5 linked regions of the Homo sapiens genome follow. The protein of the gene in region 4 purifies or fractionates together with the protein of the main gene of each other region. This does not show direct contact. Each region holds a gene or a part of one and is shown on either strand. Other genes may lie near its edges. The genes, in order: IQSEC1, VWA8, OBI1, FAM83A and MCCC1.

What was found.
Region 1: the proteins of FAM83A (region 4) and IQSEC1 purify together in Homo sapiens (affinity purification with mass spectrometry; one large-scale study listed by BioGRID and IntAct). This does not show direct contact.
Region 2: the proteins of FAM83A (region 4) and VWA8 purify together in Homo sapiens (affinity purification with mass spectrometry; one large-scale study listed by BioGRID and IntAct). This does not show direct contact.
Region 3: the proteins of FAM83A (region 4) and OBI1 purify together in Homo sapiens (affinity purification with mass spectrometry; one large-scale study listed by BioGRID and IntAct). This does not show direct contact.
Region 5: the proteins of FAM83A (region 4) and MCCC1 purify together in Homo sapiens (affinity purification with mass spectrometry; one large-scale study listed by BioGRID and IntAct). This does not show direct contact.

What each region holds. Positions count from the first base shown.
Region 1 is NC_000003.12:13,062,211-13,068,494, forward strand, and holds part of IQSEC1 (IQ motif and SEC7 domain-containing protein 1), read right to left. Parts: intron 1-6,284. UniProt on the Homo sapiens protein: Guanine nucleotide exchange factor for ARF1 and ARF6. Guanine nucleotide exchange factor activity is enhanced by lipid binding. Accelerates GTP binding by ARFs of all three classes.
Region 2 is NC_000013.11:41,686,750-41,693,033, forward strand, and holds part of VWA8 (von Willebrand factor A domain-containing protein 8 isoform a precursor), read right to left. Parts: intron 6,224-6,284; coding exon 6,113-6,223; intron 5,190-6,112; coding exon 5,125-5,189; intron 4,697-5,124; coding exon 4,571-4,696; intron 3,527-4,570; coding exon 3,417-3,526; intron 2,760-3,416; coding exon 2,605-2,759; intron 1-2,604. UniProt on the Homo sapiens protein: Exhibits ATPase activity in vitro.
Region 3 is NC_000013.11:78,637,796-78,644,079, forward strand, and holds part of OBI1 (ORC ubiquitin ligase 1), read right to left. Parts: intron 5,758-6,284; exon of another isoform or gene 5,231-5,757; intron 4,419-5,230; coding exon 4,327-4,418; intron 1,277-4,326; coding exon 1,028-1,276; intron 1-1,027. UniProt on the Homo sapiens protein: E3 ubiquitin ligase essential for DNA replication origin activation during S phase.
Region 4 is NC_000008.11:123,205,382-123,212,079, reverse strand, and holds the end of FAM83A (protein FAM83A), read right to left. Parts: intron 4,924-6,698; coding exon 4,392-4,923; 3' UTR 2,655-4,391; coding exon of another isoform or gene 2,584-2,654; 3' UTR 2,556-2,583; coding exon of another isoform or gene 2,545-2,555; 3' UTR 2,002-2,544; downstream 1-2,001. UniProt on the Homo sapiens protein: Involved in mitochondrial maintenance during adipogenesis. May be acting by playing a role in the maintenance of normal mitochondrial function.
Region 5 is NC_000003.12:183,013,227-183,018,400, forward strand, and holds the end of MCCC1 (methylcrotonoyl-CoA carboxylase subunit alpha, mitochondrial isoform 1 precursor), read right to left. Parts: intron 4,112-5,174; coding exon 4,040-4,111; intron 2,341-4,039; coding exon 2,212-2,340; 3' UTR 1,992-2,211; downstream 1-1,991.

The sequences.
Region 1 (6,284 bases), on a different chromosome or scaffold from region 4:
TCCCTTCCCTTCCCAGATGTTCACATTTCTTAAGTCCTAGCACGTCCTGAAGCCCAGCCCTGTGCCGTGAGAATCCAGGGGAGGAAGGGGACAGGAATAATCTCTATAGGTCACAGAGATACCACAGGCCTTATTACCTCATTCTGTCCTGATGGCCACCCTGCAAAGCTGGAATTATTAGCCTCATTTTACAGAAAAGGAAATAGGTTCAGAGAGGTTGTCTTCTGCCCCAAGTCACACAGACACTGGGCAGCACATAAGGAGTTCCATCTGAGCAGCTCCTTGGAGAGGGGTGGGGTCCTGGCAGGGGAGGCACAGAGAAAGGTCTTGATTACCCCCAGATCTTGGACCCCACATCTGCTGAGCTCACCTGGTCTTGGAGAGCTCCTCTGAGGTGGCCTGACCTCTCTGCAGCCCAGAGATGGCCAGGGGACAGACACCCGAACAAGGAAGGGGGTTGGAGAGACTTGAGGGCATTTCTCTTTTATCTGATGGTGGAGAGCAAATGGGAGGAAAACGCTCGGTGTTATCGTGGGGCCAATGAGAGCCTTAAGATACAGGCAGTGAATTTCAGCCAGGGCCCTGGTGATTTAAGATGCATCACTTCCCTTAGTAACCATGCCAAGCAGATGTCAGGGACATCTTGATGAGGGATGAAGCCATCGGTGCCAATAAAACATTTTTCTATTAGCCACGCTCAGGTCAGCCGCCTGCTGAGCCACAGGGGTTGCTCTGACAGGACCTTCATCCTTCGGAGGTCGGGCCAGTGTGGCAAGGTCACGCCATGGGATATAAAGGGGGACGGGCATCTCTGGCGCAGCCCCAGCTCCTCAGAGCCCTGATATCCCAAGCTCATGCTCAGGAAATGGGATGCACAGGGGAGGGAGAGCCGGGACTCCTGGGCTGGGCAGTCTAGTGGGCAAAGCCTGGCCCCTCAGAGAGCCGACACCACGCCCAGCCTGGCTTCCCCACTGCCCTGTTCACTGCCCTAGTCCTGCCCACAACCTCACCAGCCATGTCCCAGCTTTCCTTCAACCAGTGACAAGTCAATTCACTGAAAGCTAATTCATAGAACAGTCAATTTGTAGAATGACAAAGTCATAAAAAGTACTTGCTTCCTTCCCTTAACCTTTTAGCTTTAGTTGACTGGTCCATTTTTGTCTTCAAAATGGCATTTGATGGAATGTTATTTGTCTCTGTCCCAGCTGCCCACTGTGGTGGCAGGAGGCACAGACAAGCATGGTGACTGTGTCATCAGGAATGCTGCGGGCACAGGGCAGAGGAGGGCAGGAGTGGCCGTCAGCAGGGCTGTTCTGCAAGCCCAGGGGAGCAGGAAGGCCCACCTGAGAAGAGGCCTGGGCTGGGGCTGGGGCCCCGGTTCTGGGAGGCATTGGGGGACAATGGATAAGACCTCTGCTCCATCAGCCAGCTGAAACCACTGCCTGCTGGCAGAGCAGGGTCTGAAACTCAGAACCCCTGGGGGCCAGCCAGGCCCCAGCTGGCAGCAAAAGGGACTTGTGTTTCCTTTCTGGGGTGAGGGGCCGGCCCCAGTGCCCCTGGTGGGATGCAGCCTTGGAGAGAAGGGCCCAAGGTGTCTCAGGTGTCAGGGAGTGGAGGGCAGTAGAGGTTGGTGACCATGGTGCACCACCAAGGAACTGAGACTGGGAGGTCACTGGCTGTCTGCTGTCCTCAATTACCAGGGATCTCAGCCTGTCAGACCTGATACCCACCCTCACCTTTTAAAAATTAAACTTTTTATTTTGAGATAATCGTAGATTCATTTGCAGTTGTAAAAAAAAAAAAAACAAAAAACAATACAGAGAGATCTTATATACATCGTTTCCCCCAATGGTAACATCTTACAAAACTATAGGATCCATCACTACCAGGATTCTGACACTGCACTGTCCTCCCATCTTAGGTAGCTTTCCGATTTTGCTTGTACCGTGGAGCCTGCATACATGATACGCCTGCATAGAACTAAACACACGCATGCACACACATACAGGCACATACAAGTGCCACCACAGTCAAAATACACAATAGCTCCATTACCACAAAGATCCCTTGTCCAGCACCCCGCTCCTTAAATCCAGAGCTTTGCACTATCCTCTTCTCTCTTCTCAAATGAAGCTGATGACTCATGTGATCCATCCACACACATATTTAAAACAGAACCAAGAGAATGGCTGAATGGTAAAATTACAGAGAAAAAAAAAGAGGAAAATAATTTAGAATAAAATAAACGGTAATTTGTCATGTTAATCGTGGGTGGGCCTACCCTATAGTCACCTGCCTGGTCGTGTGACAGCGACCACAAACCCAGATGGATGCTGGAGTTCACTGGGCACTCTGGCACCATGAGAGATGCTGTCCTTGGTGATGTGGTGCTCTGAATGGTGGCAGCTCTTGGCTGAGCTCCGAACATATCAGAGTCTGATCTTCCCTCGACTGCGAGAGCAGTTGCATTCCTGGAAAACTCAATGCATATTCAAATCATACAAAATGCATTTTGTGGTTTAGATGTCAAGAGGAGTGAGGACCAGACTCGGATAGTTGCTCGCAGATTTTCATGCCCATAAATATCTGTGTGGATTCTTGGTGTGGGGGCCTGTCCTGCACAACCTAGGCTGGCCCTGCTCCCACATGCCCTCTGGCAGCTCTGCCTGAATCTGGGGCCCACTGTCAAAGAGATGCTGATAACTGTGCCCAGGACTGACCTGGACGGAGAGCCAGCTAAGGTGACAATGATGAAGGCTTGACGCATAGGCTTCCTGGAGATGTGTGGGGGTGTTCATCTTGGAATGTTCAGGCCCAGTCCCACCAGCCTCCCTTCTCCTGCCTGGGGAAGACACACAGGGCTTGGCTTCCTTCATGGAGGCCCCACTGCAAGCAGCTGGCCAGGGCTTCCCATGGAAGGAGACCACCACCTCCTGCAGGGGCCGGCTGGTCACACATCCCCCAAGTTGAGCGTTTCATTGGCTCAAATCCAGAAACCACAAAACAGTGGTGGGAAAACTAAACTGCTCTGTGTCACCAGCTTGCTGAGGGAGCACTTCAATGATGAAGCACACATATAAATGCACAGAAATTCACCAAGGACCCAAAGGAACTGGACACAGCCGTGGCCTCTGGGCAGAAGAACAAGAAGCAAGGGAACCAAATAGACAATATGTGCAGCCTTTTTTTGTACCATGTGGATGAATAATCTCTCAGTTATATGACTATATTTGAAAAACAACAAAGACGTAACCATCCCTTTTGTAAGCTAAACTTCATCACTCACACTTTTATTCAAGAGGGGGAAATTTAAAAACACAAGATACCACTTCACACCATTAGGATGGCTATTATTAAAGAAAAACAGAAAGTAATGAGTGATGGCGAAGATGTGGAGAAACCAGGACCTTTGTGCAGTGGTGGAGGGAAGGTAAAGCAGTGCAGCTGCTGTGGAAAACAGTATGGCGGCTCTTCAAAACAGTCAGCATCCAATCACAATCTGACCCAGCAATCCCACTTCTGAGTATACACCCAACAGAAATGGAACCAGGGACTCGGAGAGGTATTTGCACACCCATGTTCACAGCAGCACTATTCACAACAGCCAAAAGGCAGAAACAACCCAGTGTCCATCAATGGGTGAATGGACAAACAAAATGTGGTCCATCCGCACAATGGAACAGTGTTCAGCTTTAAAAAGGAAGTTCTGCCCATTGCCGCAGCAGGGATGAACCTTGAGGACATGAGGCTAAGTGAAGTAAGCCAGTCAGGAAAGGACAAATGCTGTCTGATTCCACTCACATGACATCCCCAGGGCAGTCATATTCACAGGGACAGAGAGCAGAATGGTGGGTGCCAGGGGCTGGGGATGCAAGATGGGAGTCTGCGCTTACAGAGCACAGAGCCCTGTTTGGGAAAGTGAAGTTCTGGAGATGGATGCTGTGTTGGCTGCACGGCACTGTGAATGCACTTACTGCCGCTGAAATGTGTGTAATTAAAAAAGGCAAACATGTGGTCGATCTGCACAACGCAACAGTGTTCAGCTTTAAAAAAGGAAGTTTTCTGTCTATCTTACCACAATTTTAAAAATGGTGATTTGTACCTTGTCAGGCCAGGCCCCTCAGGGATGCTAGAAAGCAAAGGCAGGACTTCCGGGCAGCTGGTGACAACAGAGGGGCCGGCACTGTGTCTGTCACAGCGAGGACTCGCCACGCGCCATGCGGGAGCTCTATGAGGGGGCCCATTTGCCTGGGGGAGTCAGGAAAGAGGCACAGGCTGGGCTGTGAGGTCTGAGGTGAAGGGGAAGAAGGGCACTCCCGGCAGAGGAGCCAGCATGGGCAAGAGTGTGGCAGGGTGAGCCTTCCAGGCAGGGCTGGGCAGGAGTTGGAACGTTGTGGGATCGTGGGAGGCCAGGAGGACCAGGAGAGAGGGCCTCAGGCCCCAGAGCGGCTGAGGAGAGAGGGGTGTGTGCAGGAAGGGGCGCCCACTGCCCCACCCCGTTCTCTTCCCAGCTGTATCCAGGAGCCGCTCTGGCAGGTGCCACCAGGTCTTATTTACTGTGTCCCTTCTCTGGGCGGTAGCTCCATGCAGGCAGGGCGGGCCTGGTCCATTTACAGGCGTAGCCCACAGGCCTGGCGTGTGTCAGGACGTGGACTAGATGTCCAGTGACCATGGTGGGCTGAGTGAATGAATGGGTGAGTGATCGGCAGGATGGGGCCATGTGAATGAGCCAGCATGCCTGGAGCTGCTGTGCCTGGCAGACACCACTCCTCCCACTCCCAGTCCCCTGTGTGTCGCAGCATAACCAGGAACTTTCCAGATGAGGTCAGAGGCCCAGAGAGGGCAAGCAGCCTGCCCAGGGTCACATAGTGAGGCAGGGACAGAGCTGGAGTGGAGCCTCCTTGTCCTGCTCTGTAAGGCCCCAGGTGGGCCAGGGCCTCAGAGACCAAGGGGCAGGATATTTTCATCCACTCTGCCTGCAGGGAGCCTCCTGGGGGTAAGAGTGAGATTTGAGAGAACAGGAGCCATCCAACAGGCTGGAAAGAGCGGGAAGGGCAGACGGGGGCTGTGTCGTCAGTAGGCTTTTGGGGGAAAGCAGCAGGCTCTAAGGTAAGCCTGGGAGCAGCTTAGCCAGCACCCAGGAGCAACGCCTCCTAAGCCCCCACTGGTGGTGACAAAACTGGTCTGGTCCACAGGCATTGGGTGGGGGGCTCCCAGCCACTGTGGGACAAGTACCCTCAGCACCCAGGACAAGCAGGCTGGGGGCAGCCATGCCACAGTGGCAGTGACCAACACATTCCAGGTAGTGCATGCAGTGGGGAAGGGGTGGGGAGGGACAGAGCCTTGCGGCCAAGAGATCTGGAACCTGCTCAGGGTAAGGCGTCAGGTCCCCCAACACCTGGGCCCCCTGACCACCCTCCTTCCCTTCCTCATCCCATCTCTGTGCACTGGGTGCCCACTGGCCCCACCCACAAGGGCACACAGATCTGGCTGGGGAGGAGCAGGGTCTGGAGTCAGGCAGACTCACTGGCTGTGACCCTGAGCAAGGCACTTCCCTGGAAAACAGGATGGCACACAACCACCCTGCCAGAGTTGTGGGATTCAACAAGATAAGGCACTTTTGTTGTTATTCTTAAAGACCAAGTGAGTCAGTGCAAGGAGGCAGGCCAGGGCCCTGAGGAGATGGTGCCAGGTCCTTTAGGGGCACAGGGGGCCTTGGGGGGCTTCAACAAAGGGCCTCCAGGGAGGGACAAGGATGGCGTGACACTTGTTGAGCTTGGGGCCCAGCCTGCTTGCTGGCCCGCAGGCAAACCCTGGAAGGGGAGTATCAGCCCCACCACATAGAGCAGGAGGCTTAGGCCCAGTGCCTGTGCTTGGGGCACTTGGGAAAAGATGCTGACCATGGGCTGACCAAGGCCCAGCAGGGTCCTGCCCCGGGGCTGGGGCCAATCCAGGCCTTACGCTTCCTCTGAGGCCCAGGGAGGATGTGGATGTCGGACCTGTCCTTCACGGATCCTTTGGTGGAAGATGGTGGCAGGTGGGTCAGAGGTAGGTGCTTGCCTAAGCAGACGCTACTTGTTGCCCTGCCTGTCCAGCAACTACCAGAAAAGTCTGTTCCTCTCAGTCTCTAAAATTCACCCCAGACAGGGTCTCTAAGTCCCAACATCATGCCAGGCCATGCCAGCTTTGGGTATACAACGGGGAGCAGGCCTGGGCCCTGGCCTTGCAAAGGGGCAGAGGCAGTGGCCAGGCCTCTGAATTTTCAGGCCCCAGGCTCATGACAC
Region 2 (6,284 bases), on a different chromosome or scaffold from region 4:
TCTCCCATCTCCACCACTAACCTTACTCCCTGGGCAGATGCTCCACTCTACCTGCTTGGGTTCTGACAGCCCATAGGGGCTGCACTCACACAGGGACACATACTTCACCTTACTTGGGCTCCTACATCCCATTCCAGGCTGCCCCTTCACAGGAATGCCATCTTCATCCTGTTTGGGCTTAACGTCCATCACTAGTGGTTACCTCTCCCCACCATAGATGTCCTTACCTTGCTTGGGCTCTGATCTTTGATAACTCACACTGGCCTACTATTTGCTCATTTGTAAAATTAGGCTATTTGCCTTCTGACTGTTAAGTTTTAAGAATCTTTATAGACTCTAGATACCAGTTTTTGTTGGAAATGTGGTTTGCAAATATTTTTTCCCAGCCTGTAGATTGTCTTTTCATTCTCTTAACAGTGTCTTTTAACAGAGCTCAAATTTTAAATTTTGATGCAGCACAATTTATCAATTTTCTCTTTATATATCATGTCTAAGACACTATTACCATGTTTAATAGAATGGTAACAGTGGGCAACCTTGTTTTATTTCTAATGAGAAAAGAAAAGAAATACTTTTGATGTTTCACCATTGAGGATGATATTTGCTACAGATTCTTATAGCTATTTGGTATTAGATTTTAAAAGTTATACAAGTAATAATTTAGATGCCACTGATAACTCTATGAAAAAGTTAATAAGAGGTAGCATACTCATTTGTCAATAGTTTCATACATAATCCAAAGAAGTTCACATAAAGCAAGAAGGCAGTGTGGTGTGGTAAAAGGATGTGTGTTAGAGGGCTGGCTAGTCACACTTGAGCTCAAATTCCATTGCTTATAATCTTTGTGGCCTAGGGGATATAAGCTCTGTCTGTTTCTATTTTTTTCATTTGTAAAACCTCATAGAATTGTTGTAAAAATTAACTATCATGTATGAAAGGGCTTAGAGCAGCACACTGCCTATTCTGTTGTGGCCTAAAAGTATTACTGTCATCTTAAAGGCTGCCTAGCTGACTCTAATCTTCTATTTAACAAATACTCATTAAATACCTCCTATGTGGTAGGTACCACACTAAGTAGCAGGGATATAGCTTTTAATTTAACAAGGTCACTAGTGTTACAGGCTATAAGAATTTCTACAAGGTTAATAGAAACAGTGCCTTAACTTAGCTTTTATTTTCTAACTTTTTATAATAACATTATACTTCTATATTGATTTCTTCAATCAGAAGAAGGTAATTAGAAGATCAATTTTTAAAATAGTTTTATCTCCAGAAAAAGTCCCAATTTTTTTTTTACAGCAGCAAACATTGTAGAAAGCATATAAAACACATCTCTTTCATATCAAGGCTGCTATAAACACTGTATTTCAATAACGTTTCATTTTGAATTACATGATAGCAGATGCTTTTAACTTGATAATTAGGAAAACATACATCAGAGTCCTAAGCCACATTATCCATTGAGTTTTAGATTTCAAATCTTATATCCTGAAGTACCCAGCATTCATTAACTATATTAAAATGTTGAGGCATACAAAATTGGAGTACCGTCAAGCAGAGCCCATATTTTTATCTTTAAATAATTCTATCATCCCATCTAAAAGCTACAAAGGAAATTATAAAAATTAAATGTTTAGTCAGAACACATGGAGCTACATCTAAGGTTGTTAGATGGCAACTTGGACTGAAATAACTTTTATAATTAATTTCCCCACATTTCCATCAGAGGAAGATGTCGCCCAGTTTCACCTACAGTCAATTCAAATAGCTTCTCCTTTATAGGTAATAGGAGATAACAGAAGGGCCCATCTAAGAGGAAAATCAATTGAGACAATTAGCCATTATACTATAACCTGGATGCTGCAAAGATATGATAAATCAGAGCAAAACTCAATGGAAAATAAATCTATCTTCATGACTGTTGAAAATTTTAATCTACAATAATGACAATCCAACAAATTTAACTTTACACAGGAACAAAAAACCAAATATCACATGTTCTCACAAGTGGGAGCGAAACATCGAGGACATACGGACACAAAGAAGGGAACAACAGATACTGACACCTACTTGAGGGTGGAGAGTGGGAGGAGGGTGAGGATCAAAAAACTACCTATCAGGTACTATGCTTATTATCTGGATGACCAAACCATCTGTACAACAAACTCCTGTGACATGCAATTTACCTATATAACAAACCTGCACACGTACACTTGAACCTAAAATAAAAGTTAATAAATAAATATATAGAATGTGTAGATGGAAAAATAATTAACTTTAAAAAATTATAGAAGACATGACAGAAAATTACCATCAGAAGGTTAAGCATTTAAACTGTATTACATGAACCCCCACATATGGAGAATACTCATTTCCCCCTACTAAATTCTATCATTGCATTACGCTTTCAATGTTAATTTTTGAAGTGTAATGAAACTATTTAGGTATAACATATTTTCTACTGACTGATTTGGAAGGAAGACTTGATCCAACATGTTTACCAGGAAATTATGTTTTTAATTACCCCTCAAACAGGCTTACAGATTATAGGTCAAACTAAGGGAAAGAAACATTTATCCGATAATTTAAAAAATGGGTGCTTACCATGAGATCTGGAAAACCAACAACTATTGTAGCATAATTTTTCTCATCTGAGAGAATTCTGTTGGGAGAGGCAATCTTTTGTTCCACAGCTGAACTTAGATGTTCAGATGATAGTTGATCACTGGAAATTTTATGAGGTATGCTGAACTCTGTTTCTGAAAAGTACAAACATTAGACACCATATGCTCCTGAAATGCTCCAGGAATTAATTTTTTGCAAGATTTTATTCTCAACAAGTCAAATGGAAAAGAACAAGTTAAAAAAGAGAAAACATTTTAAATTACATTCATGGGCTTTTGTTTGAAAAAATGCTGTTTTTATAATCAAGGCATCTTCCCAAAGTGATTTCAAGTATTTACAGAATTCAAAATTTTATTAGGAATAAATATTATAATTAATAGCTCCCTGTAGAAAAGATGTAAAAACTGACCCAACCAAGGGTTGGCAATGGTATGTTTTAGATTTTTTTCGTAAGTACTATTCATCCCCCAAAACTGTGATAAATTAAATAGAAATCCCAATAGTCTGCAGAAAAAAGATGTTATCCTAAATTAGACTTGCAACCTAAATGTATATAAAAATACTGATCTGTCAGTTAAAAAAATTCAAGGACAGAGCTTACAACAGTGAACTTCCTTATGACAATTTGAGATACTAGATTCTTATTTACTATTTCTGGTGTAGTGACTAAGTTTTTTCTTTTGGTGTAAACTTAACATAGGCTGGTGTTTTGTTCTTAAATGATTCTAGAAGACAGTATATGTACAAGCATGCACTCACACAGCCATAAACACAGATGACATAGTATTTACCTTGTGTAACTCCAAACCCTGTGCTGGGCGGCTCCTCTTTCAGCACATACAACTGGCAAACCCCACTACCCTCAGATTCGATGTGTGCAGGCTTAGTTAAAAGATATTTCCTGCAAACAAACAAAACATCTAGCTTAAGTGAAATTTTTCTTTTTCTAATAGTAATAAGGCCAGACTAAGAAAAATTAGATTCTCCTCAGTCTCTTTTTTATAGTTCCAGTATAATTTGCAGTTTTAGAGTTTCATCATGAATTAACAAATAACTTCTCAACACTGTGTTAAAGAGCAGTGCACAACAGCAATACAGTAATGAATGTGAGGCAAAAATCCAATGCTTCCTATAAGAGAAAGGGTTGTGGGGAGGGGAAGCAACTCTAATGGGGTGCACTCTTATTATCATGTAACCCTCTCTTGATAAAACTCTTTGATCAGCCAGGAAGGGGGAGTATGACTTCTGATTTGTGATCAGCTAGGAGATAGATGCCCTCACAACTGTAGTCTCCTTGATCTACTTATTTTTAACATTTCTAAAATATGGATGTATATATAGGCAGAAATCCTCTGCAATGAGATACTTCTGCTTGTCAGCAGAGGGGCAGAAAGAGTCTGCACTTAGCTAGTGGAGTTGTGCATGAGGGAAGGTGCTCAAAGTCGACACCGCCTTTCATCAAGAACTGCACAGTCCAATGGGTCAGATAACATAAACATAAACATAACCACATCCAAACCAGAATACACAAGATAAAAAGAGAAAGACACTTCTAAGGTGTGAACTCTGTGAATTTACAAAGAGGCAACAGCTCTAGGATAGAGACTGTGGCTCTTTGAAGGGAAAATCTACTTTGAAGTGTCTCCAGTTTAGCAAGAATACAGTGAATTCTCAATGTACAAATAGGAAAAAGCCCAAATAAATATGGATCATATGAAAAAGTCATGATTTTTTAACTGTTAATTTCAATGTCATTTTCTGAGAAGTGACATTTATTTTTTCTCCCCTCCTCAATTCTTATAAGTCTCATATATAGAGATGCTGCCAAACACAGAAATTGTTAAAGGACAGACACAGGAAAGACAGAACAGTAAAGATGTTGGATAATTCATAAATAAGATTGAGCTACAACATACTCCATGATACACTATATAAAGCCACTCACTGATTTGTTTTGCTCTCCACCAGAAGCCATTTGTCCTCTGCTACAAGGAAAACTGTCTTGAGGTTGATGGGAAGTGAGATGGTGTGAGTTCGCCCTTCTAGAACATCCAGCACAGTCAGGCTGTTCCTGGAAAAGAAGAAAACTGTATCTGAAAGGAAATGGTGAGGATAATGGTTGAGTAATCTGGCATAATCATTTCATGATACATTATGCAACCCATAAAAAGAATGTTTTAAGATTAAGTAATAATATAGAAAAATGTTAATTAAAAAAACAGATATGCAAAATTCTAAACTATGTCAGGGTGTGTATAAGTAAAAATAATGGAAAGTAGTAACCATTGCCATGTTAGTAGTGGCTATGTCATGGAATTGTGAGCACTAGCTTTTCTTATATCTGTTTCTCAATATTCTGCAATGTGGGCAAGTTACTTTATATTAAAACATTCATAATTTGGTTACATTCACTTTATAGTAAACAAGTATAATCAAAATAGGAAATAGAATGGGCCAAATAAGAACTCCAGTTTAAATCCTCTATAATAAAGAGCTCACCCTTTTTCTTTGTAGAACACCAGCCAGTTTTTGTGTGAAAATTCTTTACACATTTTATAAGTTTCCTAAAGACAAACAAAACAAGATATTCATATTAAATGTGTCAGATACAGTCATGTCCCTCTTTAGCTACTTCCCCTTAAATAAAATAAAGTTCTTCAACTAGTAAAACATGTAATTCTCAAACAAGCTATCTATTTATCTGCTCTAAGACTCTTATGGTAAAATGGATTAAACTATATATCAAAATTTACTGTGAACTTTGTACTAAAGCCTCTTCAGAATAAATTTTTAAAAACAACACCAAACATTGTTAAGAAATAACAGGCTATCTGATGATTAACCATGGAATTTACACCATAAAATAAACACATGGGAAACACTTTGTTTCTTATATTAGGATACATTTATGACATTAAAAAAAATCACTCTTTTCATAGTCTTTTAAGACCTAAGTATGTTGACTTGCAGGGCAGAGGGTAAACCTTATTTTAAATCCATTATTTTTTTCTGAATGGCAGAATAAATTCTCTTGTGTTGGCCTAAACTATTTACTTACTAGTTTAATTTAGTTAATAAACTAAAACACTTATTTGTCTAATGGAGGAAATTAGGTATCATACTCACAGTTTCATCATATAAATCCAAAACATAACTACATAACTGGAAAACAGGTTAAATTGACTCCATGATCAGAAATTTGTTAAAAATACGATATTCAAATAGTTTTTAATTTTCTCTTATTGTTAGTCCAGTCCTGGCAAATCTTCATGCAAGTATAATGTCATAAAAAGAATTTATTGATATTTAATTATACACATATCTATGGTTATATATATCATGTTAAAATCTATACGTGCATAACAGGAAATTCTCTTGTGCATTACAACAAAAAAGGCACTTAAAGGGATGGGCATGCATGCATCTTTCTGGTTAGAAAGCTATAGAAATCCTTGGCAATTTGTGGGACAAATGTGGTGTTTCTTACAGCTTCTTCTTTGTTCCACCAGAAAGGTTTCTTAGATGTAAACTTCTCGGAAGGGAGGATGAGACGATGAAGGGCCCGGCCAGTAGTATCTAACAACAGGATAACATTACTCTGCAAATGATAAAAACAGTGAAAAGCTCAAGATTTGTTCTTTTTTTTTTTTTTTTTAAAG
Region 3 (6,284 bases), on a different chromosome or scaffold from region 4:
GGCTCTCTCTTCTCCTCACCCTGGCCTTTTCTGAGCCCAAACAACATTTATTTTATATGTGGAAGATGGCTTACATCTAAGTTGCAAGTATTTCTCTGCTACTTAACCTGAGGACCTGAGAGCCAATATACAGGGGAACTCCTTTAAAATACCATATGGAGCTCATTAATAATTTTGAGAGATAAGATTTAGTAATTTCACACAGGAATAGTATTTTAAGGAAATGCAAATAGTTGAATATGTGATTGTAGAACTGAGTACTACAAAGCCATCTCCTTTCAGCACAAGAGGACTCCACTGTGGATAAACTTGAACTCAAGCTAAAGGCTGATCACTTGGGTCAAGATGGTGTTGTAGGAGTTGCCTGTAACATCTAGTGCTGATGGCATGGATCTTATCTCCCTTTCTAGGCCGAAAAATCCTAGAGGTTTGCCTTTTTCACCATGCTGTATCTCGTTCAAAGAAAAACTGAAAAAAATGAACCAGTTTCATAAATCACAACATTCTTTTGCATGAGGTACTCTGAAGCAGCTGCTTATTGCTGTCCTGGAATTAGTCACCAAGTCTTTATCTATCTACAATCTTAAAAATAAGAGAGTGGTAGCAAAAGAAAAGATAAGGTCAAAACTTTTCCTTTCATTGGTGCGAAAATGGTTATGTGTTTGTTTTTAGGTACACAGGGGAAGTCGCTGATATAAGCTTAAAAAACCTATGGCAAACCACAAAGAGGACGAAACAGAAACACATCCTTTAAATTGGTATTATTCTTCTAGAAGAAGATGCAATCTTATACAGAAGCACAACAGTCTCTAATTATAGTCACACATGGAACCACCTGATATTTCTTGGCAGTTAATGATATTTAAATAAGAAAAAGTCTTCTTATTGCATATAAATGCTCATCCAGAGATTCTGTCCTTTCCTCACAAATCATCTGATGATGAGTCAAGATAATATGGCTATTTATGCTTTTGAAGGTACTTATTTTAAAAACAACCATAATAGATTTTTAAAAACCACAACTTACCTCCTTTAGCTTATCCACATCATCTTTCACTTTTTCATAGATTTCATTAGCTGTTCTGAGTTTTTTCTTCCACTCTGCTACAGTTTCTGGGTTAATTTTACTTGGATTATCTGTGACTAGATGTTTGTCTTCATTTTGGTTGCCCTGCACCAAGGTTAAAGGATCCAGAATAGTTTTGATCTGTGACTCCAAGCTGAGATTTTTACTCTTAAGCTCTTCTACTTCTTTCTGTAAACAATCTATTTCGTCCTGAAAAAGCATTGCATAGTCATGAGGCAGGCATAGACACTAAACACATACATACATATGCTAAACTGAAGCCAACATGGTTTGAATTTTGTACTTAAAATTCTGTAGATACATAGATTCTTTACATATCAAAAGAGTTTTGCAGGGAGAAAGTCACATACAGTTTAAATTCTCAAAATGTGGCCTGACTGATAAAAATTGGGATTTATGTTGCCTTCATTTTAATTCAATGTTAGTTGTGATTTTTAAAAATGCCAAATCTTTGATTCTATTTAAGATATCATCCAGGTGGAGAAATAGGAACACTTTTACACTGTTGGTGGGACTGTAAACTAGTTCAACCATCGTGGAAGTCAGTGTGGCGATTCCTCAGGGATCTAGAACTAGGAATACCATTTGACCCAGCCATCCCATTACTGGGTATATACCCAAAGGACTATAAATCATGCTGCTATAAAGACACATGCACACGTATGTTTATTGCGGCATTATTCACAATAGCAAAGACTTGGAACCAACCCAAATGTCCAACAATGATAGACTGGATTAAGAAAATGTGGCACATATACACCATGGAATACTATGCAGCCATAAAAAATGATGAGTTCATGTCCTTTGTAGGGACATGGATGAAATTGGAAATCAACATTCTCAGTAAACTATCGCAAGAACAAAAAACCAAACACCGCATATTCTCATTCATAGGTGGGAATTGAACAATGAGATCACATGGACACAGGAAGGGGAATATCACACTCTGGGGACTGTTGTGGGGTGGGGGGAGGGGGGAGGGATAGCACTGGGAGATATACCTAATGCTAGATGACGAGTTAGTGGGTGCAGCGCACCAGCATGGCACATGTATACATAGGTAACTAACCTGCACAATGTGCACATGTACCCTAAAACTTAAAGTATAATTAAAAACAAAAACAAAAACAAAAACAAAACAAAACAAACAAACAAAAAAAAGATATCATCCAGAAAATAAGAAAAGTCACATGAATTCCAACAGGGAAGTAGATTCCATTTCAAAAAAGAACAAAAAAACAAAAAACTTGAGGCATACTCAACTGCTTTACTGAGGGGAATTTGAAAGTACATTGAGGGGGGCCGGGTTAAAAAAAAAAAAGGTACAGTTTGTCCCCACCTCATCCCCACATCTACAGGGGATTGGTTCTAGGACCCTTAGGGATACCAAAATCCATGGATGTTCAAGTTCCTGATGGAAAATCACTAGTGCTGTATTTGCATATAACCTACATACATCTTTCCATACATTTTAAGTCATCTCTAGATTATTTATAATAACCAATACAAAGTAAATGTCATACAAATAGTTATTAAACTACATTATTTTTATATATATTTATTTTTTTAATTTTCAATCTTGGTTGTTTGAATCCACAGATGATGAATCCTTGGATATGGTGGGCTGACTGTACAGAGTTATCAAGATGATCGTGCCTGTAATCCCAGCACTTCGGGAGGCCAAGGCAGGTGGGCCAGCTGAGGTCAGGAGTTCAAGACTAGCCTGGCCAACATGATGAAACCTCGCCTCTACTAAAAATACAAAAAATTAGCTGAGTGTGGTGGCAGGCACCGGCAGTCCCAGCTACTTGAGAGGCTGAGGCAGGAGAATTGCTTGAACCCAGGAGGCGGAGGTTGCAGTGAGCCGAGATCATGCCATCTGCACTCCAGCCTGGGTGACAGAATGAGATTCTGTCTCAAAAAAGAAAAAGAGGATTGTTAGGGTTTTGATATTTATACTTTCACTTCTATATTTGAAGTATGAGTGAAACCATCTACCATTTCCTTCTACTTTTCATTCCAGAATAATATCTGTAGTTAATTTTGAATTTTCAACTTTTCTGGATTCTGGTTCTTCAATTACTACTGTGACTATTGCAAGTATTAGCCTTCCCACTCTGGAAATGTTTATTATCCTAAAACCAGTCACTAAACATTTGGGTTAGAACTTCTTACTATGATGCCATTTATTCATCTATAATAAATATGTCACCTTAAATTGAGGTTGTTAAAAATTCTGCTAGAAAATAAACCCCCAAGTAGCTCAAGTGATCTCCCAAAGGATTAATTTGTTTACCATCTGAGTATGATAAATATTCATTATATAAAAATACATTTTAGCATTAAATGTCACACAGATAGTACTACTTACTATTTTAAATTGCAATACATTTCAACTTAAATAGCATTTTCATAAAACAAGCAAATTCATATATGTAAGGAACACATATATGAATAAACATATATTCAATCATGTATTTATACCCCACTGCATTCCAAAAATTTTTGAGGCAGTTGAGGCACCTTCCATGTACACAGTTAAACTGAAAGATATTTTGAGTCAAGAGGGGATCGATATCTCCTTCTTCAGTCAACATAAAATGACAACTGGGCTTAATGTGTACTATTCAAAAGTGTATGTATTCTATTAGCATGAATTTATTTGTAAAAATAGCATCACCATGTCCAATCATCCTGTTCATTCACCTTTAGACAATAATTAGGAAACAGCATGTTTCACACTAAAATCTCTGTGCTGGCAGTTGACATAAGGTATAGTATTTACTTTACTAGAATTGATCAGGCTTATAATCATCAGTAACTTCATAGGCAGAAGCAACTGATGACTGCAGAGGTCAGACTGGCTTTCACAAGGAGATTTCCTTTTTCTCCCAACTTCTTGAGGAAGCAAATACAAAATGATATGTCTGTGGAGGTACAAATTTTAACTTAAAAAAAAAAAAAAAAGAAAGAAATGCTTCCATCTGTTCCTTTTTTCTGGAATCCCATTCCCCCATTCCTTGGTACTTAAAGAAAAAAAATAAAACAAAAAATCTCTTTCCTCTATTTAAAATACGAAAGGAAAAAAGAAAAAAGAATTTATCAAACAATTTCTTTTTATAGGCTTTTAAAATAAAATTTCATTGGATATTTACTCTAAGAAGTCTGGGGACTGAGGTAGGTCAGTTTTTACCTTGAATTCACTGCTAACATAATTTTAAACTTTGATTACTGTTTACCTCATATTCTTTGTGTAGTAATTCAAGTCTAGTTTTCCGAAGATGCTTCCTGACCGTATGGCTTAGCATAGGTTCACTTTCACTTGTTCCTCCTGTAGGGAAAAAAAAAAAAATCCTAATTTTTCATTCTGATTCGGGAAGAATGAAAATGATCCTTTTTCATATTGTTTTATATAGCTTCCCAGCTTCACATCTACCCTTCCCCTTACATACACACTTGGGGCTTACATCTAGGCCTTTTCTCTACCCTAATCTTGAGGAAAAAAAAATATATCAAATAACACCATAAGAAATACCTTCAGTAACACATCATATTGTATTTACATATCTACATATCTTATCACAGCAAACTCAGTGGAGGAAAGGGCTGTAATTATCACATTTGGACTACTTCAAATTCTGAAAACTAGACTATATTTAAATAATAAAACCAATTATTACATTTACATTTAACCAAGAGATTATATAAAAATGTATTACTGGCTGGGTGCAGTGGCTCACGCCTGTAATCCCAGCACTTTGGGAGGCCGAGGCGGGCGGATCACGAGGCCAGGAGATAGAGACCATCCTGGCTACAGTGAAACCCTGTCTCTACTAAAAATGCAAACAAACAAAATTAGCCGGGCGTGGTGGCTGGCGCCTGTAGTCCCAGCTACTCAGGAGGCTAAGGCAGGAGAATGGCATGAACCCGGGAGGCGGAGCTTGCAGTGAGCCGAGATTGCGCCACTGCACTCCAGCCTGGGCGACAAAGCGAGACTCCGTCTCAAAAAAAAAAAAAGTATTACTGCTATATACCTATGTATATAGATTAATGTGTCTTTTCACGGATTCTAACAGGCTAGTTACAATGGACTGTAAGTCATGGCATTAACTCTATGTCATGACTTGTTACAAATGCACTCACAATGAATTCTTCCTGAGAGCTCTTCACTGATGCTCTGGTTACCTTCTTTGTATTTTTTAGCATTATAATAATAGCAAAGGTATTTTACAGGTGTTCTTTTTCAGGATGTTCTATCCAAATGCAAAAATGGATGAACTATTTTCCTTGAGAGAATTTATGAAATATCACTTAGGTATGAATGAATAAAGGTAGGATATGGGATGAGAAGAAAAGCTGGGGGAAAATATTCAAATCATCAAAGCTCATATTCTGCAAGAAAAGACTTGACTCCTTGGTGAAATTCAGCAGGTAAAAAAAAACAGATAGAGGTTAACCCCGTAGCATGCAACACAGCAGAGAACCAGTCCTCTACCAGACTTCACCCAGGTACCAAGAGCCAACTCTGATTGCGCCTTCAGATCTCTTATTTCCTAAGTCCTACTAGTTCTTCTTTTGCTCTGTAGCATATATATTCCTTTCTATTTCCTTTGTAAAAATCTTGGCTGGGCACGGTGGCTCACGCCTGTAATTCCCAGCACTTTGGGAGGCCAAGGCGGGCAGATCACCTGAGGTCGGGAGTTCGAGACCAGCCTGACCAACATGGAGAAACCCCGTCTCTAATAAAAATACAAAATTAGCCGGGCGTGGTGATGCATGCATATAATCCCAGCTACTTAGGAGGCTGAGGGAGGAGAATCGCTTGAACCCAGGAGGCAGAGGTTGCGGTGAGCCGAGAACGCGCCACTGCACTCCAGCCTGGGTAACAAGAGCGAAACTCTGTCTCAAAAAAAAAAAATCTTATTTAAGTCCATTTTCCCTAACTTGGGACTATTACAATGACTTCTTAAGTTTTCTGAAAAATGTTTTCTATACTTGGCTAATTGTAGATTCACTTTCAATTTTTCCTATAGCAAAAACAAGTAGAAATCATTTTAATTTTTGCAACCTAAAATAAATAACTTATATGAGTAGAATAAAAACCAAACTCTAAAAAGGCTCTTTAGAAGTTCTCCTTTTCAAGGATCCTCTAGTTCAAGCTTTACTCCTCCCCCACCCCACCAATATTAATGTGACA
Region 4 (6,698 bases):
TGTTTCAGCAGCCCTAGCTAGGTACACACTGCCCTTCCAAACACAAACAGGGAAAGCCCCCTGCAGAGGATTTTTCTTACTCTTCCCTTTTCTCTGGGCTGCTTTGTGTGCTTCGTCGGTGGCATCTTCCTTATCTCCAGGGTTTGCATTTGTTATTCCTCCACGTTCCTGAAAATCAAGGGAAAGGCCTGCTTGTATTTTTCCGGGGAGACTGGGAAGATAGGGCTCAACGACCTTGGGGATTCTTCACTCACCACCATGTCAGTGGGAGAATCTGAAAATCTCTGTTCTCAAGTCAAGGCCACTAGCCTAGAAAGTGTCTTTGTGTGAATTTGTGAAGGGCGTCCTTGCCTGACTCAGGGAGTGGGCAGTAGGGGAAGGTGGCCTTGGCAAGCATAGCTATGGTGGACTTCAGCCTCCCCGGCGCGCCGCCGTCGTCTGCGCCGCGTCTCTCCATCCGCCCCGTGTGCTGCATCATGGTTTCATGCTCTCCTTCACCACACGCTACAGAGGAAAGAAGGATGGAGCGCCCTAGGAAGCAATGCCTGGGTCAAACGAAATACAGTGAACAACAGCAAGAGGAGGTTGTGTTTATGTTTGCACGTGTGTCTGCAGTATTTACATCCTCTAATAACAGTTCCAACACAGAGACACTCTTCAAGAGGAAGCTAGGAAAGTGAGTGACAGTTTCTCTGTGTCCACCGGCTTTTTGGATCAAGTTCAGAAAGTGAAATATTTGGGCCGGACACAGTGGCTCACGCCTGTAACCCCAGCACTTTGGGAGGCTGAGGTGGGTGGATCACCTGAGGTCGCGAGTTTGAGACCAGCCTGGCCAACATGGCAAAACCCCATCTCTACAAAAAATACAAAAATTAGTCGATGTGGCGGCGGGCGCCTGTAATCCCAGCTACTTGGGAGGCTGAGGCAGGAGAATCGCTTGAACCTGGGAGGTAGTGGTTGCAGTGAGCTAAGATCGCGCCACTCCAGCCTGGGCGACAGAGTAAGACTGTCTCAAAAAAAAAAAAGTGAATTATTTGAAGAAGCTGCTTTGACATTTTCATGACAGGCTAGCAGGGTCAGCACGAAGACTAAGTGAAGGCGAGGCAGCCCTTCCTCCCCTACATTCTGGAGGGACAGAGAGTGAAGGTGGTCTGGGGTATCTGATTATTCGTCTCCCCTGTAGGAGCAAAGCTCCTCACCAGTGTTCAACCAGGGAGGACTGACTGTGCCCTTGGACTGTCTGTGGCACCAATGTAGCTCTGGACCTGTGGGTCCAGAGAGATACCTTTGGTCTCTGGGCTCTTATGATGTAAATGGAGAGACAGGAGAGCAGTATCTGATGAGGACCAAGTGCAGGTAACAGATCATTCCTAGGAGACAGGGGCTCTGAGGAGCAGCGTTGATCATTAGCAACCCACACCTCAGTCCATGTTGGCTGACTGTCCTGTAGATAGGTCCTATGATCCAAAGTCCCTGGTTTGGGGGATGTGTTTGACCTTAGGTGAGGTACCCCAGGACATGAAGATCATAGTATTTCTTCATTCTCTCATGTTCTTCATGGTGGCTGTTCACATGAAGGTCCCTCCCAGCCCTCTCCGGAGCTGACACAGTGCCTGGCACATAAGAGATGCTAAGCTGCAGCTGTTGAAATTCACACTGTAGTAGAGACTCCATATGTTTAAAGACACGGAGTGACACTCTAGCAAGCAGGCCGCAGTGAGGGAGGTACAGGTGTGATTATAACCCAGAGCAGAATTAAAGATGGAACGTGACCCGGTTTTGTAGGATTTGAAAGTTGGATAAAGACTTCTTCTAGCTTTCAGATAGACAATTGCCAGGTGTGTCAAACCACCCCTAATCCTGTGGTGGAAATAGTGTATGTGTCGGGGGGTCTTGGGAATCCAGAGCAATGGCCTAGCCTGGAGTTGGGGGGTCTCAGAGGCTGTATCACTCGGGCAAAGCTAGATCATGGTGCAGGAAGAAACAATCCCCAAATCGCAGTGGCTTAAACAACAAAGGTTTATTTCTTGCTCACTACATATCCATTGTGGGTTGGTGGGGTGGGAGTGGGGGATTCTGCTCATCGCTTAGGACCCCAGGCTGGCAGAGGAGGGTTTCAACTGGAGAGCTGCTTCTATGTGGCAACCTGGACCCAGGCTCTCAAAGCTTCTGCCCAGAAGTGACCCTCGGCGGTTCTGCTCATGCTCCACTCGCCGGGGCAGCCCCGACCTAACCTCCCAGCAGGCAGCGCATCACATGTTACAGGTGCCCAGGAGAGGAGAAACTGCACCTTTGTCAACAAAGACGACCACGGAGGGGAGACTGCTGATGGAGGGTGGTCAGGAGTAGGGGGGCTTGTTCCTGCCTGCAGGTTCTCCCCTATCTCCCAGGACTGAGCTCGACACAGGCACAGGCTGAGGCCTTTGGAAAGCTGGGCTTGGGAGCTTCTGTGACCTGGCAAGCTTTGCCTTCCTTAAACTTTCTCAGCAGATGGTGAAATCCAATTTGGAATGTTCAGCCGGGCCCAGTCATTCTAACCTCATCTCAGCCGTCAGCTGTGAAACAACAAGGTCAGGGCTGGGTTCAGAAAGCCATCAGGAACCAAAGTGTTGTTTGTTTTTTTGTTTTTGTTTTGTTTTGTTTACTTTCAGGAACTAAGGAGGAAAAAAGTGAAGGACAGGAATACAATAATTAATAATAATAATAATAATAAAAGAAACCAGAAGCCAAGATGCCCCAGATCATGCTGGGAGCAGTGGAGAATTGGAACAGAGGGATGGATGGGCAGAGGGGACTAGGGAGGATGCCACAGGCCGTCAGGGGTCAGAGGCCACCAGGAGGAAGAGCTCTGTGCTCTCGTCCCTCCACAGCGAAGGCTGAGCTTCCCCGCCAAAAACCGACAAGGGAGGAGAGGGCCTAGAAACAGGAGAAGGATGTGGAGTTGGCACCTGCTCCCCTCTGGCTCCCCAGCCTGGATCACATACCACTGACCCCACTATCACACCTGAGGTGCAGGGTTAACTCTTACTTTATCTGGGAAGTGTCTCTGACATCCCACCCACCACAGGGCTGGCCAACCCTCCTCTATGCTCTCTCTCTTTTTTTTTTTTTTTTCTGTGACGGAGTCTTGCTTTGTTGCCCATGCTGGAGTGCAGTGATGCAATCTCAGCTCATTGCAACCTCTGCTTCCTGGGTTCAAGCAATTCTCCTGTCTCAGCCTAATTTTTGTATTTTTAGTAGAGACGGGGTTTCACCATATTGGTCAGGCTGGTCTCGAGACCAGGTAATCCACCTGATCTCAGGTAATCCAACCACCTTGGCATCCCAAAGTTCTGGGATTACAGGCATGAGCCACCACGCCTGGCCCCTCCTGTATGCTTTCTAAGCATCCTATATTTCTTTGCACTCAGCTAGGCTGTGCCCTCAGGACCTAGTTCCACCCCAGAAACAAAGAGGGGCACTGTGAATTGAGAAGAAATGAATGATGGGGCTTGTGAGGTTCAGCATTTATTCCTCAGGAGGTGACCAGGCTGGTCAGAGGCACCTGGATCTGGGGACAGCTGAGCCCTCCCTGCTGCTCAAGACTGGCCTGGGCACTGCAGTGGGGCCAGTCCTGGCCCCTGACAACTCAAGCTCCTAGGTCCAGTCTAGACTCCAGGGACCTCCAGGCCAGCCCAAGGCTCTTTGAAGCAAGAATCTGAGTCTACTAACCTGCCTTGTCCAACCCAACACCCCAAACTCCTCAGCTAGCTGCATCCCTGGTGGCTACAGCTTCAGATGGCTCCCCCATACAACTCATAGATAACGGGTTCTGGGGCCTCACCCCTAATTCATTGGGCCCAAGGATACCCTAGTATTAGCCTTTCCTAAGAGGAGGAGTTTCCCCAACTCTCCCGAAACATCCAGAATGTTCCCACACCTTCTCCTCAGTCTTTCTTTCCTGAATTTCTTGGGAGTGGACCATTCCTGGGCACTGGGAACCAGAAGTACCAAACTACCATCTATCTCTCAGTGCCTCTGTTTACCCATTTGTAAAACTTGGGCTGCATTTCCTGCTTCTTACGGAGTTTTGGGGGCCATTAATATTAAAGCCCCGGATGATCTCTGGAAGACAGGGACTCTGTTTTCATGATTTTGTCCTCTAGCTGCCCCACAACCTCCCTGGAACCTTCTGGAATGTGCTGCACAGGTCAAACTAGAGCGGGGAACCCAAGAACTGGTGGGGGCCGGCAAGTGGATGGCCTGGGGCCTGGGAACATTGAACCATGGCAGTGATTTTGAGTGTCTTTTCAAAGGGAAGTGGCTCAACGCCACTCGTCGTTGAGGTGGGTCTTTGGGTCTCAGGGAGTGCCCAGCCCTGGGCCTGCGGAGGGCAGCAGGGGATGGGACCTTCAGAAGTGAGGGGAGGCCTGCAGGAAGGGCCTCCAGGTTGGAGTCAGCCTCGGCACCAGGCCCAGCTGCTCCAGCTGCAGCCGCGTGGGCCTGTAGGCCCCCAGGTTGCTGTAGACAGCGGCGGGCGGGCCGTCGTGGGGCCGCGGGGAGAGGTGGGCCTGGGGACTCGGGGCTCCCCAAGGGCCTTGGTGGGGCTGGAACCGGGGCGGTGGAGGCGGGTGTGGGGCCGCGGGGCTACAGGGCCCTGAAGACGCGGACACACTTCGGGTACCGGGGTGGCTGCCTGCCGAGCGGCCGCTGAAGGGGTTGGAGGACGTGCGGTCACTGGCGGAGCCACTGCTGCTGCTAAGGCGGCCATTGGCCGGGGCTGCTCCGGGCGGGACGGGGGCGACCAGCCGCGGGGACTTCAGGCCCATCACAGGCTTGGAGGAGGCGTAGAGGTGGCGGAACTCCTCGTCAAACAGCTCCACCGCCTGGCCTGTGAACTTGGAGAGGATGTTCCGGTGCACGTGTCCGCAGAGCCAGGTGAAGCTGGAGGGGAAGAGGAGAGAGAGTGATGGAGGAGAAGGGGGAAGGATGGGGAGGGGAAGTGGAGGAGGAGGGGGAGGGGAGGAAGAGGGAGGGAGGAGGTGGAGGAAGGAGAAGGAGGGAGAGGGGAAGTGGGAGGGGGAAGAGGAAGAGGAGGAGGGGAGGGGGAAGGGAAGTGGGAAGGGGAGGAGGAGGAAAAGGAGGGGAGGGGGAGGAGGAAGAAGAGGAGGAAGAGGAGGAGGAGGAGGACAGATAGGAGGCTTCGCCGGCCCAGGCCCCAAGATCCTCCTGGGGGACCAGTCTGGGAGTTGTGGGTCCCCTCGGGGCAGGGACGGAAGGGGACCAACCCATGCCCACTGCCCCTCCTCTTGGGCTCATTTCATCCTGGCAGAAACCCTGAGAGAGAGACATTGCGACACCTCTCTTACAGACGACAAAACTGAGGCTCAGGGGCCAGAATGTGTTTGCGGGTGAATAATTAAGATGCCAGAGCGAATCCCTGGTCTCAAGGCTCCCTCCTGGTGCTCAGATTGCAGCCCCTTAGAGGCTCCCTGAGGAGGCAGAAGGGAGCTGAGTCTCAGGCCCCCAGAGTCTGCGCTTAGGGTAGTCACCCAGCAGCCGGGGCCTTCTCGTCTCCACCTGTGGAATGTGGAGGGCCAGCGCGCCTTTAACCACACAGGGGTCGGGAAAGCCCCTGCAAAAGGCGGCTGCTCTTGGGAAGCCGGACTGTGTTTTCACGAAAATCTAAAGCGTTCCTGAAAGAGGATTCGGCTCCATTTTCAGGCACAGGGACCCAGCAGGGATGAGTGGAGGAGGAGCACCGTGCGCCTCCCGTTGACGCTGACAGGAGTGGTTTATGGAGGAAGCACCCAGACACGGGGCCGAGGCTGTCGGGGCGAGGGGTGGTGGAAGACACCCTCAAGGAGAGGCCTGGGGCCACCACTTACAGGTTTTAGGGAAAAACAAAATGCCTAAGGCAGTTATTACTTTGTATGATTCCCAGATTTTTTTTTTTTTTTTTGAGAGTCTTACTCTGTCACCTAGGCTGGAGTGCAATGGTGCGATCTCGTCCCACTGCAACCTCCGCCTCTCAGGTTCAAACGATTATTCTGCCTCAACCTCCCAAGTAGCTGGGATTACAGGCGCCCGCCACCACGCCCAGCTAATTTTTGTATTTTTAGTAGAGACAGGGGTTCACCATGTTGGCCAGGCTGGTCTCGAACCCCTGACCTCGTGATCCGCCCGCCTCGGCCTCCCAAAGTGCTGGGATTACAGGCGTGAGCCACCGCGCCCGGCCTGTTTCCCAGATTTAACCCCAACTCTTTTCTGTTTCCGATGGAAAACTCCTTTCGTTTCTCCCCCCGCCCCCTCAATGCTTGAAACTCTGGTAACAGCATAGACCTCCCGAGAGCAGCAGGCTAGAGGCTCCTGGGCTCCTGCTCAGGTGAACTTGAAGCAAGAGGGAGAGGATGGTCGGGGGAATGGTCGCCGAGCCGGGACAGCGCCAGAGCTAAGCAGAAACGGGCCCGTCAAAGATAGGATCGCAGCCCCCAGCCCCCAGCCCACCTGTCTTGCCACCCAAAGGCCTGGCCTCAGCCCAGGGTTGGGAGTTCCCTGCTCTGTGAGGCAGGGCGGGGCCGCACAAGGCTCGGATAATCCTGGGAACAGCAATGAGGCTTTGTTTAAATCTCACCTCCCGCCGGGAACCACCCACACCCCCAGAGAGGTGAGCAGTTGATGCCGAGCCAAGCGCCAGCCCCGCCACGGGACAGGAGGCA
Region 5 (5,174 bases), on a different chromosome or scaffold from region 4:
AAACAGATGCATTCATGTGCAAAATAACTCTGCTCACACAGCACCAGAACTGGCAAAGATCCTAAAGAAAGAATTCTACCAATATGTGGGTAATTGGGCTAGCTGGCTTCGAATTCCTTCAATACACATATCCCCAACACAGTCACTTAACAATGAAACAGTGAACTCAACCATGTTCCACTGAAGGATACAAACAGCATTCTCCGAAAGGGGGCAAACAGCAATGTGAAATTTCCATCACAGCACCTTTTGCTTTTCCCTCTATTTTTTTTTTTTTTTTTTTGGAGACAGAGTCTCACTCTGTTACCAGGCTGGAGTGCAATGGCATGATCTCGGCTCACTGCAACTTCCGACTCCCTGGTTCAAGCGATTCTCCTGCCTCGGCTTCCCAAGTAGCTGGGACTACAGGCGCGTATCACCATGCCCAGCTAATCTTTGTATATGTAGTAGAGACAGGGTTTCACCATGTTGGCCAGGATGGTCTCCATCTCTTGACCTTGTGATCCGCCTGCCTCAGCTCCCAAAGTGCTGGGATTACAGGTGTGAGCCACCGCGCCCGGCTGCTTTTCCCTCTTTTAAACAGAGAAAGTTTTGTTTGGAAAGGGGAAACGGCACCCTTGCTAAAACTGTAACTTTCGACATTGTCATAGACTATGTTGCATTGCTGAAACAGAGTATCACAGACTGGATAATTTATGAACTAATTTATTTCTTACAGTTCTGAAGTCTGGGAAGTTCAAGATCAAGGGGCCGGTGTCTGGTGAGGGCCTTTTTGCTGTGTCATAACATGGTGGAGGGCATCACATGGCAAGAGGGCAAGAGCGAGCCAGCTCAGGTCTCTCTTCCTCTTTTAAAGCCACCAGTCCCATCATGGGGGCCCCGCCCTGATGACCATATCCAATCCTAATTACCTCTCGAAAGTCCTACCTCTAATCAACACATGAACTTGGGGATTAAGTTTTTAACACGTGAAACATAGGGGACCCATTCTAATCATAGCAGACATGATTTATGTTTTACTTTTCCAATTATAGGCATCTTAAAGTACGGAGACCATCTTTTATATTTCTCTGTATTTTCCACAACATTTAGCATAGTCTTATGTATTCAGCAAGAACTCAATTCAACAAATATTTAACACTTCAATGAATACATAAAAATGCAAAGGGCTGCACATCTGTTAGTAAAAGTAACACAGAATCTAGACAAAAGTAAACTGAATGGTTTTTCTTCATAATGAAAAAAGTATTTCTAAAAAAAGCATTCAGCAGGCTCAGGCTTTTAACTCTTACCAACTTTTTCTGTAAAATTATGCTTTTCAAATTTACCAAAATGTTATATTAAATATTAATATATTTTAGCATGTAATAGATATATAATACATATATTTTTATAAGCTTAGAAAGTACAATAAAGGCAGAGGCAATCTAGTTAGAAACTTTCCAATCACAAACACTAGAAACAATATCCGTGTCTTTACTTATTTATATTTATGTATTTGTTTTGAGATAGAGTCTCGCTCTGTCACCCAGGCTAGAGTGCAGTGGTGCGGTCTCGACTTACTGCAACCTCTGCCTCCCAGGTTCAAGCGATTCTCCTGCCTCAGCCTCCCAAGTTGCTGGGACTACAGATGTTCACCACTACACCCAGCTTATTTTTTGTGGAGACGGGTTTCACTATATTGGCCAGACTGGTCTCGAACTCCTGAACTCAAGTGATCTGCCCGCCTTGGCCTCCCAAAGTGCTGGGATTACAGGCGTGAGCCACCGCGCCCGACTAATATCCATGTCTTTTAAACTACCTAGCAAGTTGCTTTTTGGCCAGACAAAACCTTAGTTGTTGAACTCCAGGGCACCTGTCTCTGAAACATATTACTGCTCATTTTCATCATAACAGCAACTGGAAAGTAATTCATTTAATTAAATGTCCTTTTCTCTTCCCCCCTTCCTAAAAGAGACTACCTTGTAAAAAATTTGAGGCAGAAACAAACATTGGCTTCCAATAAAAAATAATTCAACTTTATTAGTATGAAATATTTTGAGATAATTAGTGACCCAAATGCATGATTCTCCAATATGAAAGGTGTTCAGCATAAGCATACAATCATTTAGTAAAACTGCTCTTTATGAGACCCCCAGAAAAGCTGGAGGCACTTCCTCTTTTTGGTGGAGAGAGAAGACACTACTTAACTGGCCATTTCCTTGCTGGAGTTTATTCCGATTCCCTTTTGTCTGATTCTTCCTCCTCAAACTCGACTAAAGGAGTGTGTCTGTTGGCCTGAGCACCTTCTCTGTAGAACACTTTCTTTACTGTGCCATCCTTTGGAGACTTTATGGTATGCTGCAGAGACACATGACAGGACAAATGATAGCTGCAATACTAATGAGGACTGAGTATACACCAAGTCAAGAAAGGGAGACCAAAAATGAAAACTGTAGCCAACTTTGATGTTTTGTCATCTCTCGGTGCTTTCCAACGCTTTGTTGTTGTTGTTGTTTTTATTTTTAACATCACAGCACACAGGGAGAACAGTAACAAGTTGAGAGGAATGAACACTGGGACACAGCAGTAACCTTTCAACGATATGACTGGGAAGCTCTGGTGTAGCTCGCAGTTCTCAACTTGAGCTTCACATGAGAATTGCACCTAGGAAGCTTTCAACAGTTTTTTGTTTGCTTGCTTTTGTTTTTTTTTTTTTGTTTTTTGTTGTTGTTGCTGTTGAGACGGAGTCTCACTCTGTCACCCAGGCTGGAGTGCAACGGCATGGTCTCAGCTCACTGTAACCTCTGCCTCCCGGGTTCAAGCGGTTCTCCCACCTCAGCCTCCCAAGTAACTGGGACTACAGGTGTGTGCCACCACACCTGGCTAATTTTTGTATTTTTAGTAAAGACGGGGTTTCACTATGTTGGCCAGGCTGGTCTTGAACTCCTGACCTCATGATCCACCCACCTCGGCCTCCCAAAGTGCTGGGATTACAAGCGTGAGCCACTGCGCCTGGCCTTGTTGTTTGTTTTTTTAAATTGAGACGGAGTCTCGCTCTGTCACCCAGGCTGGAGTGCAGTGGCAAGATCTCGGCTCACTGCAACCTCTGCCTCCCAGGTTCAAGCAATTCTCCTGCCTCAGCCTCCTGAGTAGCTGGGATTACAGGCATGCACCACCATGCCTGGCTAATTTTTGTATTTTTAATAGAGATGGGGTCTCACCATGTTGGCCAAGCTGGTCGTGAACTCCTGACCTCAAATGATCCGCCTGCCTCTGCCTCCCAAAGTGCTGGGATTACAGGCATGAGCCACTGCGCCCAGCCTTTCAAAAGTATTGATCCTTGGGCTCTACTCCTGGAGATTGCAATTCAATGGGTCTGGGGAAGAATTTTTTCAAATCTCCCCAGGTGACTGTACACATGCTCCTTGACTTACGATGGGGTCAGGTCCAGATAAATCCAATGTAAGCTGAGGAGCATATTCAACGTGTATGGTTTTGCACCATTGTCAAGCTGAAAAATCCTTAATTGAACCATTGTAAGTTGAGGACTGTCTGCAATATTCAGCCAGGGCTAAGAATCACTGACCTACCATTTGAACCATCTAAAAACCTAAACAGCTAATTTAATTTGATTGCGGTTTTCACTTTGAAACTGATGCCTGGCATCCTTGGTTCGGCCTTAGAACCAAGATAATACCAACAGTTAACATTAGAAAATACCAACAGTTAACATTCCAGAAACACCAACAGTTAACATTCAGTTGGATTATCTTAGAAAATACCAACAGTTAACATTCAGTTGGATTATCGCCTGATTCCAAGCTATTGATAATTTCATTAATTTCAGAATCAGAAATGACAGGTGCAATTTCACAAAGTTAAAGTAAAACTCTTTTCTACAAGAAGGATAGTTTGGTTTTGTTTCCTACAATTAATGCTTCGTCAATCATGGCTTTTCATATTTAAGGTGGTATTAACTTACAAAATAAGGCAAAAGAACCATTAGGTATGATTGCTCCCAAAGTCCTCATAGCAAATGAACTCATGATTTCCTTACCTCCATCTTCATGGCGATCATAACCATGAGGGAATCTCCCGCTTTCACTTTGTCTCCAGCTTTGACAAACACCTTGAGATTCAGTGTGACAGGTTAATATTTGAAAACACAGAGGTCCTAGATATGTTCATCTGCTTCATTATAGTAACCATTTTACTGTCTATATATACTCATAACATCATGTTGCAAACCATGAATATAAACAATAAAACATAAATAAAAAGAAAAAAAACAACACAGAGGTCCTTTGTGGTCCACAGATTTGGTATATAAACTTACAGAGCAGAAGTAGAGCCCATGTGGTTGTGCCATCTGCCAAATGCACTGGTCAAATCAGAGGCCTACAGCCCAAATATACAGGTCAAATCTGAGACCTACAGCCCAAATGCACTGGTCAAATCAGAGGCCTACAGGTCAAATGCACTGGTCAAATCAGAGGCTTACAGCCCAAATGTACAGGTCAAATCTGAGACCTACAGCCCAAATGTACTGGTCAAATCAGAGGCCTACAGCCCAAATGTACTGGTCAAATCAGAGGCCTACAGCCCAAATGTACTGGTCAAATCAGAGGCCTACAGCCCAAATGCACTGGTCAAATCAGAGGCCTACAGGTCAAATGTACTGGTCAAATCAGAGGCCTACAGCCCAAATGTACTGGTCAAATCAGAGGCCTACAGGTCAAATGCACTGGTCAAATCAGAGGCCTACAGCCCAAATGCACTGGTCAAATCAGAGGCCTACAGGTCAAATGCACTGGTCAAATCAGAGGCCTACAGCCCAAATGCACTGGTCAAATCAGAGGCCTACAGCCCAAATGTACTCGTCAAATAAGAGGCCTACAGGTCAAATGCACTGGTCAAATCAGAGGCCTACAGCCCAAATGCACTGGTCAAATCAGAGGCCTACAGCCCAAATGCACTGGTCAAATCAGAGGCCTACAGGTCAAATGCACTGGTCAAATCAGAGGCCTACAGCCCAAATGCACTGGTCAAATCAGAGGCCTACAGGTCAAATGTACTGGTCAAATCAGAGGCCTACAGCCCAAATGTACTGGTCAAATCAGAGGCCTACAGGTCAAATGCACTGGTCAAATCAGAGGCCTACAGCCCAAATGCACTGGTCAAATCAGAGGCCT